Linked DNA regions of Homo sapiens: region 2 is linked to region 1. The links come from fine-mapping of genetic effects on gene expression. A gene starts in region 1. The other region holds a variant in brackets. All regions are shown on one strand. Distances are from middle to middle.

Region 1 (4,399 bases):
AAAATGCAGCTCACTGCCCTTGGCAGCCATTCCCTTATTGTTTGCTAATAAATGAGAATGCACACACATACAGATGTGTTTTCAACATTTAAGATACTTTTGTTTTTACTTAAAAAAAGAAAAATCAACTCTGCTTGCTGTATTTCACTATTACTGCTTTTAAGCTTCTACAATTATAAGTTTTAAATAGCCTTCTAAAAATCTAGCTAAAATGTGGGATAGTTCATATAAGCTGGAGTGTCACGAGCCTCAGATTTCCCGTTTGTATAGTAGGCAGAAATAAAATTTACTTCTTAAAGTTGCTGTTAAGGATCAAATGAAGTCCTGTGTAGCCAGTATTTGGGCATGTAAAATATATTCAATAAATGGTTATTATTAGTACTGTTATAACCATTAAATAGCAACTTCTCTGAATCTCCTGTTTCCTCTATAAATTCTTGGGGAAGGAAACACGTATGTTTTGGAAAGGGGGTAAAATATTTCATAAACACACCTTACATCTAGATGCAAAAAAATTTAAGTATTATTTGTGATGATAAAAACAGAGTAGGGAAGAAGAAAAAGTGGAAATATTCTGTGTTTTAAGTAGAAATTTGAAAAAAAAAATTCTAACGTTAATTACATCTGGTATCCAGTAGCTCATGTTAGGAAATACAATGTTCCTTTCCACTGGAAAAAGAAAAAGACGAAAGAAAAGGGAGGAAGAGAGGAGAATAAAAAACAAAACCAAAGCAATATTATGATAGACTGGAAGAAGCCTTATGCAAAATACATAACTAAACAATGACAATATTCTCCTAACTCTTTCAAGATCAGCAGTAAAAGGTCAGTCACCTTCCAAAGAAGCCTGGGTTTGCACATCACTGTTTATCTAATAAAATTCCAGTGAAGACAATTTTTCTTCCCAGTAGCCAAAACTACAGTTAGGTGAGTTAAGATATACGTTAATAAGGTGCTGCTACGCTATGCTGAGCTCTTCCTCAACAAAATTTGCAGTTTCTGGAACTGCAAATTTTAAATATGCTTTATTCAACTCAATAGCAGCTCCAGTGAAATGATGAATTCAAAAAGTATTAATAACAAATCCAAAATGTCTGGATTTCCTTAAGAAAATGTCAACTCCCTTCCCAGAAACCTACCCAAAGAAAAGCCAAATGTTATTTAATTCTTATTCTCTGGAGTAAATATGGATCTTTAATCAAGGGCCAGGTAGGACCAACAGCTGGTATATTTCTAAGTACCTCCTTAAAGGGCCCGCAAACTATAAACTTTAGAGCGTCCTGACAAAAAGACAGCGAAATGAGCATACTCATCCCCCACCCCCCCACCCCGACTCCCGCGAGCGCACACACGCACACACAAATGCCCCGCACACTAACAGCTCTGCAACAAGACTCGGTCTTTCAGCTGGCTACTGGCAGGCCACCCAGAAAATGTGTACTCCAGTTTCGACCCTTCTAGGGATGAAATCAAGGAAGGATAGAGAGTCTTGGTGGATTTTAGCCAACCCCTTAATTCTACAGAGGAGCCTGAAGCTGCGGGTGCAATTAACTTTGTCAGCCTTTTCGTTTCAAGGCCTTCTGATCCCAGGTACACACGGCGCACACCCGACCCAGGACGAGCCAAAAGGGCACGGGCCCTGAGTCAGACTACGTGCAACCTCACCCAGCTCCTCTGCTGTCTGTCTGACCTTGTGCACGTTAACTTCTGCGTCTCAATTTCCACATCTACAAAATGGAACCAGAAGCTCCACATCCCATACTGTTAAGAGTCGACGGGCCGAGACGCGCTACCCGGCTCGAGTGGGCGCTCCGCCCGTGGGCTCCCACCTGGACGCTGGGGAAGGCGGTCTTGAGCAGGTAGAACATCTTGCGGTTGGACAGCACGTCGCCGCTGGTCATCTTGTCCTCGGCTCCCTCGCGCGTCTTCCCCTTGGACTTCTCGTGGAGGACGTTGCTCTCGCGGACGCGCCTCACCTCGTCGCCGCCGCGGACTGCGGCCAGCACTGACACAGCCAGCATCTCGCGCAAGTCCACGGTGCCCCCATCGGCCGCGGCCGCGGGCCCCGCCGCGCCGCCGCCAGGCTCGCCGCCCAGGCCGAAGAGGCTGAAGCGGCCGGCCAAGAAGCCCGAGTAGAGGTGGTAGAGCACGCCGAGCCCCAGCAGGCAAAACACTGCCACCCCCAGTGGGGAAAGGCGGATGCCCATGGGGGCCATGGCGTGGGAAGCCGGGCGCTCCGGGCTGCGGCTCTCACAGGCCTCCAGCGCCCGCCGCCGCCGCCGCCGCAGCCGCCGCGCTCCGGGCCAGGCGCCGCGCGGGCTACACTGGCGCCCGCTCCCCGGCCCCGGTGCGCCCCATCACTCCCTCCCAGGAAAGGCCGAGTTGCGCCGCGAAGACCACCAACGCCGCCCCGCGCGCCTGACTCGCCAGGCAGCGCGCTCTAGGTTCTTCCGCCGGCCGGCTGGTCCGACTTCCACGTTAGCCTACGGCCGCGAGGTGAAAGGGGAGCGTGGGTGTGTATCCGGGTTACGCGACGGGGCGGGGCGAGGGCGAGGGCGAGGGGCGGGGAGAGCTGGGCACCTCCCCTTGGGGCGGGGCGGGGCGGGACAGGAGGCGCTGGACTGAGCTGCCTTCCTTGGTCTGGGTGGGAAGGTATTCCTGGAAGTGGCGAGCAGCAATCCGCACAGGACAGTGTGCTGTGCTGAGTGCCTTGTGGGTGTTTAAATTAAATATCCCATTGTACGACTATGGCTGGCTGTAATAAACCCACAGTAACAGTCTAGTCTTCTCATCACTCTCAGATTATTGAGGAATGGAGGAAAACACAATAAACCATTTTAAAAGATTGATTTGCAAGCTTTTTTAGCCAGCGGGGGTGTAGACAGCCTGTACCTTTAAGTCGCTTCTCCGCGCTCTTCCCGGCAGGACGGGGAACTGGGCGGTGAGGGGAAGAATTGTACTTGGCTCTTCATTCTGTTGACATCTTTGTCGTGCCCTAAATGCTTATGTGTGTATAGAGTTTCTCTCCTCCACCTGCCAGAATAAACCATCCTCGAAGCAGCTGAAAAACATGCCTTGATCCGGGTTTTTCATAATGAAAGAAAGCAAACCAGGCTTCTCTCATTTCCAAGGGTACTCGAGCCTGGCTCTCCTACCAGAGCTTAAGAAGAGGAATTGCTTGACAGAGTCCACTTAAAATAGAGGTTATCCGGAGATGGTCAGTCTAGAACATGTAATCTTTGAGTCAGCGTAGGCTCTCGAAGTATTTTGACAGAAATAACTACCTTCTACTATAACACCGATCTTAGCTAGAATGATAGTGAATACTTTATAAGTATTCATGAGTTTATCTTTAATCTTAAAAGTGAATATTAAGATGTATAGTATTGTTCTTAAATGTTAAAATATCTATATAAATCAACTTAAAATGTAGCCTGTTTTACTGTTCATAGCAAAACAGCATTGGTTTTAAGTGGACTTTAGAATTAACCACCTGAAAAACTGCAAGTATACCAAACTTCTAAACATCCATTGCTAAGCAAGTCATGTAGAGCCTGACCTTTACCGCTTACTTAGAGTTCAGGGCATCCCTAGAATTTGCATGTGATTATACACATACAACAAAAGCACTGCCAGATTATACACATACAACAAAAGCACTGTGATTTCCCTGCCAGAATCACAGCACAAAATCAAGTACAAATACAAATCAGTGAAAGAACAATCCCTAGAGTATTGACAGCACCAGAACTTAAAGAACTAGCATTGCCTTTCTTGTCAGCTTTTGAGAGTAACTTTGCAATGAAGCAAAGCTGCTTTCAAATATCTAAAAGTGAATGTCACAGAGTAATTCTCAAAACCCATCCCAGGGATAAAGATAAACATCAGGGTTGAAATATAAAGGTTTAAGTTAAACAGAACCACCCCAACCTACACTATGACAGCAGCAAAAAGATGAGTTGGATAGTAATCATGTCAATATTAAAAGCATCATTGGGAAGTCTGAGATTTCTCAAAATAAACGGAATAATATTTTCCAAGGATATTGGAGAATAATATAGGGTCACATTCAGTGTGGCAGTATACACAGTATACCACTGAGGGAAATACTAAAAGCTCTGGAGCATTTCTACTGCAAAAAAGGGATTTAAGACTTGAGGGAGAAAATGCCAAGGTATGTGGAAAGAAGGAGTCACTTGAAAGATTGTAGCTCCAAGAGGCGTTCTAGCACTCAAGTGATAATTGATCATAGAGAATGGGTATTAACAGATAACATTTAATCGACAAAAGAAGTTATGACAATAAGAAAACATTTGATTAATTACATGTGGTACAGTGATGTCAGAAAACCTTTATAGGAATTTGATTGAAAGAAACTTGTTTTTTTAGTATCAAGTTG
Region 2 (4,399 bases), 53 kb before region 1:
AGTGTAGAGAAGACCTTAAATGACCTGATGGAGCTGACAGACAAAGCACGAGAAATTTGTGACGCATGCACAAGCTTCAATAGACAATTCAATCAAGTGGAAGAAAGGATATCACTGACTGAAGATCAAATTAATGAAATAAAGCGAGAAGACAAGATTAGAGAAAAAAGAGTGAAAAGAAATGAACAAAGCCTCCAAGAAATATACTTCTCAGAAGAAGACATTTATGCAGTCAACAGACATGCGAAAAAATGCTCATCATCACTGGTCATCAAAGAAATGCCAATCAAAACCACAATGAGATACCATCTCACACCAGTTAGAATAGCAATCATTAAAAAGTCTGGAAACAACAGATGCTGGAGAGGATGTGGAGAAATAGGAACGCTTTTACACTGTTGGCAGGAGTGTAAATTAGTTCAACCATTGTGGAAGATGGTGTGGCGATTCCTTAAGGATCTAGAACTAGAAATACCATTTGACCCAGCGATCTCATTACTGGGTATATAACCCAAATATAGATTATAAATCTACGCTACTATAAAGACACATGCACACATATGTTTATTGCAGCACTATTCACAATAGCAAAGACTTGGAACCAACCCAAATGTCCATCAATGATAGACTGGATTAAGAAAATGTGGCACATATATACCATGGAATACTATGCAGCCTTAAAAAATGATGAGTTCATGTCCTTTGCAGGGACATGGATGAAGCTGGAAACCATCATTCTGAGCAAACTATCACAAGGACAGACAACCAAACACTGCATATTCTCACTCATAGGTGGGAGATGAACAACGAGAACACATGGACACAAGGCGGGGAACATCACACACTGGGGCCTGTTGGTGGGTGGGGACTTCGAGGAGGGATAGCATTAGGAGAAATACCTAACATAAATGTCAAGTTGATGGATGCAGCAAACCAACATGGCACATGTATACCTATGTATCAAACCTGCACGTTGTGCACATGTACCCTAGAACTTAAAGTATAATTAAAAAATAAAAAGAAAATAGCATTGTTACCATTGTCCCTAAAATTTTTCATCTTACTCCCAATTCTCCAAGAAATACAAATGCCAAGGCTGTTAAATAACTCCCACTTAGCTTTCCCTTTTTTTTTTTTTTTTTTTTTTTTGAGACAGTCTCGCTCTGTCACCCAGACTGGAGTGCAATTGGCATGATCTTGGGTCACCTCCGCCTCCCGGGTTCAAGCGATTCTCCTACCTCAGCCTCCCAAGTAGCCGGAATTACAGGCATGCACCACCACACCCAGCTAATTTTTTGTAGTTTTAGTAGAGATGGGGTTTCTCCATATTGGTCAGGCTGGTCTTGAACTCCCAACCTCAGGTGATCCGCCCGCCTTGGCCTCCCAAAGTGCTGGGATTACAGGTGTGAGAGCTTTCCTTATAAATACTTTTATTAAATACTTTTATTCTTACACAAATTCTTCCTTCCTTGTCTCAGAGAATAAGATTTCTTCTCCTTTCCTGAGTCAGCCCATCTGTGCTTTTAAAACTACTTCCACTTCTTTATGATCTTACTCTACAATTGTTTATCTTTTTCTCCAGCACCTTCCTCTTCTCTCTTCAGGTTATTTTAAGTCAATAAATATTTATGGAGCACCCCTCTGTGTCAGGTACCATGCTGGTCACTGAGAATATAAAGAAGAGTAACATGCATCCCTACCATTTCTAGGGGAGGAGAAAAGGGCTTCCCACTGCCTGAGAACATGGTGGAGAGACAAGAGTTTTTCACTGTGGCCCTTGCATGTCCTTGTTCCTGTAGCTGGTGTGAAAGGAAAATAAATCTTGGGGCCCCAGGCTCACTAAGCCAAAGTGAAAAGTCAAGCTGGGAACGGAGTCACACAAAGCTGCCTCTCCTTTTTTTCTTAAATAAGATAGGTACAGAGATAAAAGAGCTACATACCTCCCTCACCATGTGCCCACAATGGGCTCCAAGATCTTTACCCTAAAACAGCTTTGTTGAATTTCATCCTGACAATGTAAGTTGATAGCTTATTTATCTTCACAAGCATGGAACAAAGGACAGAACTTAAAGTCATCCCTCTGCTCACCTGAGACAAATGTATTGCTTCCTCTGCCCTATGTTTATTTTATCTTACATAAAAATGCAGTTTCACTGAGC[G/A]AGAAAAATGCATAAGTGACTATTTCTGTACTTCTTTCTCACATGTAAGATGTGTATTCAATAAATGGTGATCAAAGACTCAAAAGAATGCAACTGCTTGCCTCTTATCTACCCACACCCTTATAAACTTTTTTTACTCTTTTCCCAATATATGCCCTTTTCTCTTAAAATATTGAGGTCCCAGACCCTCTTTGGAAAAAGCATGAACCACAGTTTTTCGTATGGTTCCATGTCTTTTTCCCAGGTGCATCCTTAACCTTGGCGAATAAGCCTTTTAAAATGATTGAGACTCACCACTGTCTTTGATTTACACTGACCAATAAAATCCAAATTGCCCAAACAGTGGCTGCACATCCACAGAACAATCCCTTCCTTCTCAGAGAATCATCCAAGTTAAACTAGTTAAACTTTCACAAAATGCCTCTTGCCCAAGTCTTGTAAAACATTTCACTCTTGTTCCCTTAGTTAGACCGCTCTCTCAGGGCCTTCTAGTCCCTGGGATTTTTGAAGAAAGCCCTATGCTAATGGTAGTGTTGATTTTCACAATTTTTGATGCTGTGACTTAGATAGGGCTTGACCCTGCTACTCAGCATCAGCACAAGACAGCAACTTTAGAGAGACTGTTTAAAGAACAACCACAATTACATGAGGTCAAATCCTTTTAACAAGTTCCTTATTGTATATATAATTTTTTTTTTTTTTGAGATGAAGTATCGTTCCTGTTGCCCAGGCTGGAGTCCAATGGCGCTATCTTGGCTCACTGTGACCCTCCACCTCCCAGGTTAGCGATTCTCCTGCCTCAACCTCCCAAGTACCTGGGATTACAGGTGCCTGCCACCACGCCTGGCTAATTTTTATATTTACTAAAAATATATCTACTAAAGAGATGGGGTTTCACCATGTTGGCCAGGCTGGTCTCAAACTCCTGACCTCAGGCAATCTGCCCACCTCGGCCTCCCAAAGTGCTGGGATTACAGGCATGAGCCACCTTGCCCGTCCTTTTATATATACTTTTATATAAATGTACATAATATATATTCCTAGTGGTTTTGCTTTTCTGATTGAATTTGAATTGATACAGAATTTGGCACCAAGAAAGAGTTTCAGATGGACAACATCTTAAGGACAAGTTCTTTGAATTGAATATGGAGTTGGTTTTCAATTTGATTAGACTTGAAGGCATTAATGACCCTGTTTCCAGCGGCAAAGGGGCAGAACATGGCAATCAGTTGCAAAAGTCATGCAAATTTTTAACTACATTTACCCATAGAAGAGAAGTCTCTTGGGGACAAAGTATTTACTACTCTAGAACATTTTAGCAAAATGCAGAGTAAAATGGAGTAGGTTGGTTTCTTCTAAATGTGCTGTAGAACTTAGGGGGAAAAAAATGAGTTCAGGGCTTTAAATTCCCAGGTTAATATCTGCATAAGGACCTGAAAAGCTCCTATGACTGCCTTAAAAACAATACGGGCCAGGGGCAGTGACTCACGCCTGTAATGCCAGCACTTTGGGAGGCTGAGGTGGGAGAATTACTTGAGGCCAAGTGCTCAAGACCAGCCTGGGCAACATAGTGAGAATCTGTCTCTACAACATTTTTTTAAAATTATCCAAGTGTGGTGGCACGTACTTGTAGTCCTAGCTACTTGGGAGGCTGAGGTGGGAGGATCACTTGAACCCAAGAGTTTGAGGTTAAAGTGAGCTATGATTGTGCCACTGTTCTCCAGCTTGGGTGACAGGGCAAGGTCTTGTCTCTAAAATAAATAAAAAACTTAAAAAAAATTCTTATCTCCTGTGACTACAGAACTGAGATTCTGAAAAACGAATTCAAAGTTTATCTTGCTGGTGGGTGAATTACAAGGCAAACTGAATACTCAAACTTGCATGGTCTATTTTGTTAAAATTAGGGCAATGATTGGGAAGGAATGAGATTCTAAAAATTGGGATTGGGTCATATGGACAGATTCTGATAAATCTGGAGACCTTGTACCCCCAAATTCCACCAAGCCTTCTTTGCACTTCTACTGCTGCTGCCTGAAGAACTCTAATAACTTTCACTTGGCTGCTTTACAAAGGGCTGCTGGTGCTCTCCAGGACATACTCCCACCACAGGTCCCTGAGGGCCTCAGAGGGTGAGACTCAAAATGTGGCCTGTAATGAGATGCAATGAACACCAAAATAACTGCATGATTTTCCAACTTATATTGACATAAACCTGAGGAATATATGTTAGAACTGATCTT

Alleles and levels. Positions count from the first base shown, and alleles are read on the strand shown. Sizes are in standard deviations (SD) of each study's normalised expression.
For the expression in pancreas of the gene that starts at base 2,498 in region 1, allele A in region 2 goes with a lower level than allele G (small effect, 0.23 SD a copy in GTEx).

Evidence for each region. PIP is the estimated chance that this variant, and not a neighbour inherited with it, causes the effect.
Region 2: its variant is the best candidate, but not a certain one, in a credible set for the expression of BPNT2 in pancreas (GTEx, PIP 0.71).

The regions. Positions count from the first base shown.
Region 1 is chr8:56,991,370-56,995,768 of GRCh38, forward strand. BPNT2 (3'(2'), 5'-bisphosphate nucleotidase 2) reads right to left here and starts at 2,498. Exons shown (of 5, transcript NM_017813.5): 1 at 1,830-2,498. The coding sequence starts at 2,216. RefSeq lists a silencer at 2,055-2,614.
Region 2 is chr8:56,938,554-56,942,952 of GRCh38, forward strand. No RefSeq gene overlaps it. Among named protein-coding and RNA genes, the nearest start is that of BPNT2, 53 kb to the right of the region's middle. The variant G/A (reference allele first, on the strand shown) is at 2,160.